2 linked regions of the Homo sapiens genome follow. The protein of the gene in region 1 purifies or fractionates together with the protein of each later gene. This does not show direct contact. Each region holds a gene or a part of one and is shown in the gene's direction. Other genes may lie near its edges.

Region 1 (3,915 bases):
CAAGGCTGCCCCAGGAAGCACGGAAGACGTGGAACTGAATCCCAGGCCTCTGGCCCATCACCCACGTGGTGTCCCCAAGGAAGGGAGAGTTGTCTCGGAATGCTCAGGGGGACTCATTAAAGCAACACTTTCATAAATGCCTGCTCTGAACAACATGTAAATATTGTCTTTGAAAAACACCGGCTGGCAGCTCAAGGGTGTGAGTAACCTGGAGCTTCTTCGACTGGGCCCCCCTGAGGAGGGCATGGAGCCCAAGATTCGTTACCATAATTACTTGAGAGGCTGTCAAATTCCATGACAAAACGCAAATGCAAAGCCCTGGCCCCAGCAGCAGGCAGCTGAAAGGGACCTTGACCCTGTTGAGTACTCCAGTATAGAAGCTGCTGGATTCTAACCAGGGCTCTCCCATGCCCGGCTCTATAAACTTTCTCTATATTTTGCATTGTTTCCCTAAGGGTAGGAGATTCCCGTAAGTTGGGTCAAAGGGCAGGGAGGTTTCCGTGGTTCTCATTGGGCCCTGCTGCTGCTCTCCAGACAGATGATGGATCAGCTGTCAGGGTGGCCCCGGCCATGCCAGCGCAGTAGGTGGTCAGGGCGCACTTGGGGCAGCCGGCAGGGCAGAAGGGACGGGAGCTTGACCCGTGTTCTCATGGGCAGAGGGAGCCCGGGCAGTGTTGGGGGCAGCGTGCGGGCAGGCGCGGAGGGGAGATAGCCAGGCAGTCAGGGAGAATTGGGGTGACTGGAGAAAGGCCGAAGGGCCGCGTCTGCCTGCGGCCGGAGACCACCCCAGGTCCATACAGCCAGCTGGGTGCCGGGCACCATTTGGAGCCGCTGGGAAAGCCAAGCACCGCTCTTTCTGGAGCCTTCTTTTTTCCTATTGTTAGGGAATTCACGACGTCACACTTGTTTTCAAGTGAAAATAAGAGTTGTGTAGGACGCGAAAGTCACGTGACTTGAAAGCTGAACCTGAGAGGCCTCAAAATAAATTCTGGTTTGCTGTGAAAGCCTCGGGTTATAGCGCTAAACTCCCCCCTCCACTGCCCCCGAAAGTTGTATTCTCCTCTGCTTTTAGGGTGGGGTGTGGCGTAAACAACACAGCTTGAGCAGCTCTGAGGAGGAGGGTGTTAGAGACCAGGCAGGCGGAGCAGGCAAGAGTTTTCAAGGATGTCGAAATAGTTTGAGACGCCCCGTCCCATTATAAAAGTGATAACGAGAGACAGCAGGAACGCGCTTCTGGACAGAAAACAGACCCTAAGGAAAGGCAGCCAGAGGCTCACGCTGGATCCTGCGGTCTTCCCTATCTGCGCCTCTGTACCTCCCTTGCCTTTACAAAGCGCATGGATCAACTTTGGAACAGGTTCTAATTCTGCCCCAGATCCATCTGCGTCTTCCCACGACTCACAAATCTGACCTCAGGGTGCAAGCGCAGCCCCAGCCCTCTAAGCCTGGGTAGGCAGGGCTCTCCCACCCGAGAAAGGGCCGAGGGGAGACTTCCGGGGCGGGACCGACGTGGGCCCCTCCCACTCGGCGGCCGGTGGGTTCAGCCTGAACGCACTGCGGAGGTGGGGCCGACGAGGGATCCAGGGGCGGGACAGGTTCGGGGCGGGACAGGTTCAGGCCCCTCCCATGCGGCGGCCAGCGCGAGCGGTAGAGGCGGGTCTGGAGGCGGGGCCTGCGTGGAGCCAGACGGCGCAGCTGCTGCCGGGGGCGGGGCCGGCGGGCTGTGGCCCCGCCCTTAGCCGCCATTGCCGGGCCTGCCTGGCCACCCTGCGCAGCGGCCTTGCGTCCTCTCCCGGGGCGGAGCGGGTCGGCGGGCCTGACAGGGAACCTCCCTGACCGAGCCCACGTCTCCCCACGGCCAGAGAAATCTCCGGCCCGGCCCGCATCGCCAGCCCCCAGGCCCGGAGGAACGGCCCGAGCCCAGGAGAACCACATCTTCGTCCCAGCCCCGGAGGCTCCTGTGGGCAAGATCGTGAGCCAACGGGTTCCTGAGGCCCCTCCTGGCCAGGCAGGGTTTCCCCGCGCGTTTCCGAGGAGCCCTGCCTGGCCGGGCGGCTGGACAAACAGGTCGTAGCACCGATCGCGCCCGCCCCCAGCAGGGGTCCCGCACAGGCTTGCCCCTGACCCCCACCCAAACCTGTCCTTCCGCTTTGCCCCCAAACAGTGCACTTGCCGGCGGTCCCAACCCAGCAGGAGAAGTGGACATGAGGTTGGCAGGTGGGTGGCTTCCACAGCGAACGGGAGGGAGTTGAAAAGGGCACCTGGCTGGAGGCCCAGCGTCGCGACATCTGTGTCTGGAGAGGCCCGGGTGAACCACTGGGTTTGGTTTTGGAAATGGAGGACTCTGCACAAACACTCGTTCCTTGACCTTAACCAAATCCTTTCACCTCTGAGGACGTCAGCTCCCCGAGCTATGACATGAGGATTAGTATAGTCAGTATCTCCCAACGCAGGTAGCAGACCAGCTGCTTTTTGGAAAATGAGTGGTGAGAGAGAGGAGGTGGGCAGTCCAGGTGGAGAGGCGTGGTCTTAGAGGGGAAGTGACAAAAGTGGCTGTGGGCTTCGACATGAACCCGATGACAGCCCTACTGTCACCTGGACAAGTAAGATGAAGATCCTTGGGGAGGGATAGGTTGGGGCTGGGTGGAGAGTAGAAACAACTCGGGAATTGGACTTCAGACTTGCTAAGGTGGTAACTTTGTGGACATATCCAGGTGGAGCTGGCCACTGAGGAACCAGCTGGCAGGGAGTGGTTTCAAGAGAGGCCACGGCTGGAACTAGAAAATAGAAAGTCATTGACACATGGTGCTTAATTAAAGAGCTAGGAGTAGATGACATCATCTAAAAACACACTACAGGCCGGGCGCGGTGGCTCACGCCTGTAATCCTAGCACTTTGGGAGGCCGAGGTGGGAGGATCACTTGAAGTCAGGAGTTCGAGACCAGCCTGGCCAACATGGTGAATCCTCATCTCTACTAAAAAAATACAAAAAAATGAGCCTGGCGTGGTGGCGGGTGCCTGTAATCCCAGCTACCCGGGAGGCTGAGGTTGCAGTGAGCCGAGATTGCGCCACCGCATAACTCCAGCCTGGGCGACAGAGCGAGACTCCGTCTCAAAAAAGTAAAGACAGCTGGGCGCAGTGGCTCACGCCTGTAATCTCAACACTTTGGGAGGCCAAGGCGGGTGGATCACCTGAGGTCAAGAGTTCGAGACCAGTCTGGCCAAGATGGTGAAACCCCGTCTCTACTAAAAATACAAAAATTAGCCAGGCATGGCCGGGTGCGGTGGCTCACACCTGTAATCCCAGCACTTTGGGAGGCCGAGGCGGGCGGATCACGAGGTCTGGAGATCAAGACCATCCTGGCTAACATGGTGAAACCCCGTCTTTACTAAAAATACAAAAAAATTAGCCGGGCGTGGTGGCGGGCGCCTGTAGTCCCAGCTACCAGGGAGGCTGAGGCAGGAGAATGGCGTGTAACCGGGAGGCGGAGCTTGCAGTGAGCCAAGATCACGCCACTGCACTTCAGTCTGGGCAACAGAGCAAGACTCTGTCTCAAAAAAAAAAATTAGCCAGGCACGGTGGTGCGCGCCTGTAATCCCAGCTACTTGGGAGGCTGAGGCAGGAGAATCGCTTGAACCCAGGAGGCGGAGGTTGCAGTGAGCCGACATCGCGCCATTGCACTCCAGCCTGGGGGGCAAGAGCAAGACTCCGTCTCAAAAATAAAAAAAATAAAAAGACACTACAGGTAGGGACCAGAAGGCAGCCTGAGATGGGAGCCTGGGAAAGTCCAGCTTTTAAGGGGAGGGTAGAGGAGACGATCTAACTAAGGAGAATGAGGAGTGTCCAGAGAGATTGGGTCAGGAGAGTGTGCTGTCCGGAAAGCCAGCAGAGAAGTTAGTGCTTCTGTCAGGTGG
Region 2 (3,815 bases), about 22 Mb from region 1:
TGAGAATCAAGAGGGAAGGGAATCATGTAAAAAAAAAAAAGGAGATTTTAGTACTATTGGAGGTATAAATTCTAGTACTCGGTTAGGCCGTGGTAAAGAGAAAAGATGTGAACTGCAAGTGAAGCCAAGGTAGAAAGCTCAATTTTGCTCATTTGCCAGAGTGTCCTTCTTACACCAAGGTGAAAACAGCATAGGATGTACTCTGTGAGGTATTTGTTATAGGAATGGGCTGCCAATGATTGCCACCAATCTCTTGGTACCCAGCTTGCCTTGTCATCTGTAAGCAATCTGGGTGGGCTGGGAGAATGGGGAGAAGCAGACTATGGGCATGGGATGAAGAAAGCCACTGGCCTGCACCAGGAACGAGGCCTTCACTTTCCCTCATTAACCTTAGCATTAATCTCTACATAACTAAGTTACCTGATTTAGATGCTTTTACTTGGACCTCTGGCATACAAGTCTTTGTAACGCAGTTGTAAATCCTCATAGAGTGGGGTGGGAGTAAACAGATTCTGGCATAGGATGCTTCTTGAAACACTCCTTAATCATAGTGGATCACTGTCTCATCAGGCCTCACTGTTTATCTCATGGCTTTGAGTCCCACTTTGGAGCAATGACCGCACATCTGCCTTGTCTTTCTTCTTGAGCTCCAGTTCCATTTCTCTAATTGCCTACTGGGACACTGTCCATCAATACCCCAACTCGATAGGCCCCAAACTGAATCCGTCATCTTCTCCTCTAGTCCAGATCTCCCTCCCAACTACTCTCTCTTTCACTGGCAGAGTAAATTTGTTCTCAGTCATCCAACTTGCAAACCTTCTCAGTGACTTTCATTTAGGGTTTATTCTCATTCCCCAAACATAGTCAATCCCCAAGTTCTGTCATATTTTCTTTTGCCATGCCAGGCATAGTTATTTTCCACCCCTATAACTGCCATTCCAGCCCAGCCTCTCATTATATTTCAGATCTCAATTACCCCAAACCATCCAATTCCATAACTATGGTTTCTGCTCCTCAATCCCTGATGTGATGGAGAAGCCCAGAGTTAGATGCGAACGCAACAGTTTTATAATACCACTTACAATTGTTAGATACCGTTCTATTGGCCTCTGATAGTTTGTAACTACGGTCCATACTGTTGGTAAAGACACATGGGATTAGTCAGCTTAAATGAGAAAATAATATAATTTAGAAACTGACTCATGTTCTTTCTTGATCCCAATGAGGCATTCAGGGACGTGACTGTCACTCTCTGGGCAAAAACAACATGTACCAAGAGGTGAAGAGAGCAAAATAGCAACAAAAATAAATGAGCCCATTGCTGCAGTCCCTGATGCCCTGTGGTGAGCTGCTAGAGTGAAAAGTTAATGGAATGGGAGAGGGCAAGATAATGTGAGCGCCCTGGTTGCCTTTTCCAAGAGCTTTTCAATTCCAGAGTAACTGTGAGCTTCATTGTGAATGGTTTACCTGATCAGTATAATTCCCTCTCCTTTGTAGATAAGAAGACTAAGACAGCAAGAAGTTAAATGCCTTGCTGGCAGCCAGGATTAGAACCTGGGATTCCTGAATAAATGCTTTGAACTTATGAGGCTGCTTCTGAGAGATCATAGTTACACTGGGCTTCATAGCAATAAAAATGAGCTTTTCCCTTCCCTCAGAAATCCTGTTATTATCCATAGTTAGGCAAAGGGAAACTAGAAGAGGATGCTAAATAAAAGCACATCTCAATGAACTGAACTATCTTTGCCAGGTGATTATCAGAAATATAGATAATGAGCGTAAGATACTTAAAGGGGCAAGGACTCTAATTTAGACACCTCGGGCAAAAGAAGTGAAAAAGTTTGGAACAAAGAAAACCACTCAGGACATAACCTAACAAGATAGAAAAAAATGAAATGCGAAAGTATTATCAGCTTTAATTAAAGGAAATCAATATTTGAAGAGGTGTCTTGCTCAACAATAGAACAAGGGCAAACATACTTCAGAAATGTGAGTCTCTTAGAAAAGAGAAAAGCAAGTTTTCATGGGGAAACAACCACGATTGAAAAACCTTTCAAAAGATGACGACTTGGTGTATCTGTTGGAGAGGGGCCTGAAGCACCTGTTGGGGAGGCCGACTAGATGAGCTTTTATCCCTGGGAGAGTCTGTTTTAAGTGCATTTTTTCAGTCAGGGAGTGTTCAGGAGCCTAGAGGCATCTCTAGGGAGTAAAGAATAGCCAGTATTTCCCTCAGAGAGACTTGAAACAAACCCTCAACAATAAAGTGGGTTTCATCTCAGTTATCACTTACAAGAACACACATTGGAAAACATTAAGGACTATACAAATGCAACAGATGTGTTATTTCAGAGGCACTCTGCAACCATCCAAGCAAGCTTGCTTGAGAATCCTTTCTAAGCTCACGTTTTTTGTGATGCACATGATGACCAACCTTCAGTGACTGGAGTCCAATTCTCCCAGACCATTCCTCTTCAGGGATGGAAGATATGTGACATGTGTCACCACTTCCTTCTCTCAAACTGGTGCAAGACATTAATACTCAATCATGACACTTCTTTCCATTGAGCCCAAATGCAGCTTTTTCATTTATTTGTTCAATGAATACCTCTTGACTGCCCATTTAAAAGTGAGTTGGAGAGACAGATAAATAATAAAATATAAGCAACACTACGAGCACCACATGCTAAGTGCCTAGTAAAAGATATGTAGACAATAAATATCATAGCCAAACCTGTTCTCTTGAAATACAATTTCAATTTCCTGGGACCCTGAAAATTAATTCTTAAAATTTCAGTACTATTGTAGTTGTATCAGCACAACTATTTTTCAGGGATCTGAGATGAATTAATTCCGAAAAGAGCTTACAAAGGAGATGCAGAAGTTTCTATATGCCACCCATCAAAAAAGTGAGTCAGGTGTGTTTTAAGCCACAGGGTTCTTCTCCCACAATTAGCTTTGACCAAACAGCAAAACTCAGATTGGAGTGGGTCTGATTGCCATTTTGGTTTAAGTACACTGGATACCATTTCAGCATCAAATCATTCAATCAGAAACACTGAAAATGCTGAAGAGTTGGGTTAGTTGCAATTTTCCCACCTGAATAGAATGTGCATAATACTGCAAATTGTTTTTTCACTTTTGTAGTGCTGGAGACATTTATGGAACCTGTGGGAAAGGGTTTTCTTGACAGATGGAGATGGACAGCCAACCAGACAGAAGGAGAGCTAGCACTCATTAACTTTTCCCAACAGAAACTCACCTGTAATTGTTTTCACAGGCCTTTAATGAGGCTTGGTTGTGAGGCACTAGAGAGAGGAAAGCAGCTTATCCATAGAAAAGGATAGCTACTCAGGTGAGGTAGAGGAAGCCTGGATCCATAGCCTTGGAAATTGTAGGACATAAGGTTTGAGATTACAATTCAAAGACAAGATGAAAGTGATGAGGGCTGACAAGTAGTCTAGAGATGGGCAAATCAAAAGAATAACTACTGGGGTAGATCTGTTTCGGTTATGTAAGTTAGGAACTCTAAATCAAGGAGCACCCACCCCCCCCCACCAATCTCATATATCCAAAATTATATCTATGTGTCTTTGAAACAGGTTGGATTTATTCTTGTAAATCCCTGGGATTGCGGGATGTTTCAGTGACCAGAGTTCTTGGCAGGATCTTAATCTTTAGGTCTTTGCCCCAAAGATCTTTGAAGTTCCCAGACAGTCTGCAGCTGCAGTATTTTCTCTTTATTTTTCATGGGACCCTTCTAGAAACTGCAGTGTCCTTGATATCACTGCTTTAGATCTCCTTCTCTCTCAAAGTTT

The links.
Region 2: the proteins of FAM3A (region 1) and HS6ST2 purify together in Homo sapiens (affinity purification with mass spectrometry; one large-scale study listed by BioGRID and IntAct). This does not show direct contact.

What each region holds. Positions count from the first base shown.
Region 1 is NC_000023.11:154,514,062-154,517,976, reverse strand, and holds the start of FAM3A (protein FAM3A isoform 1 precursor), read left to right. Parts: upstream 1-1,744; 5' UTR 1,745-2,204; coding exon 2,205-2,217; intron 2,218-2,261; exon of another isoform or gene 2,262-2,497; intron 2,498-3,915. UniProt on the Homo sapiens protein: May act as a defensin against invading fungal microorganisms.
Region 2 is NC_000023.11:132,672,045-132,675,859, reverse strand, and holds part of HS6ST2 (heparan-sulfate 6-O-sulfotransferase 2), read left to right. Parts: intron 1-3,815. UniProt on the Homo sapiens protein: 6-O-sulfation enzyme which catalyzes the transfer of sulfate from 3'-phosphoadenosine 5'-phosphosulfate (PAPS) to position 6 of the N-sulfoglucosamine residue (GlcNS) of heparan sulfate.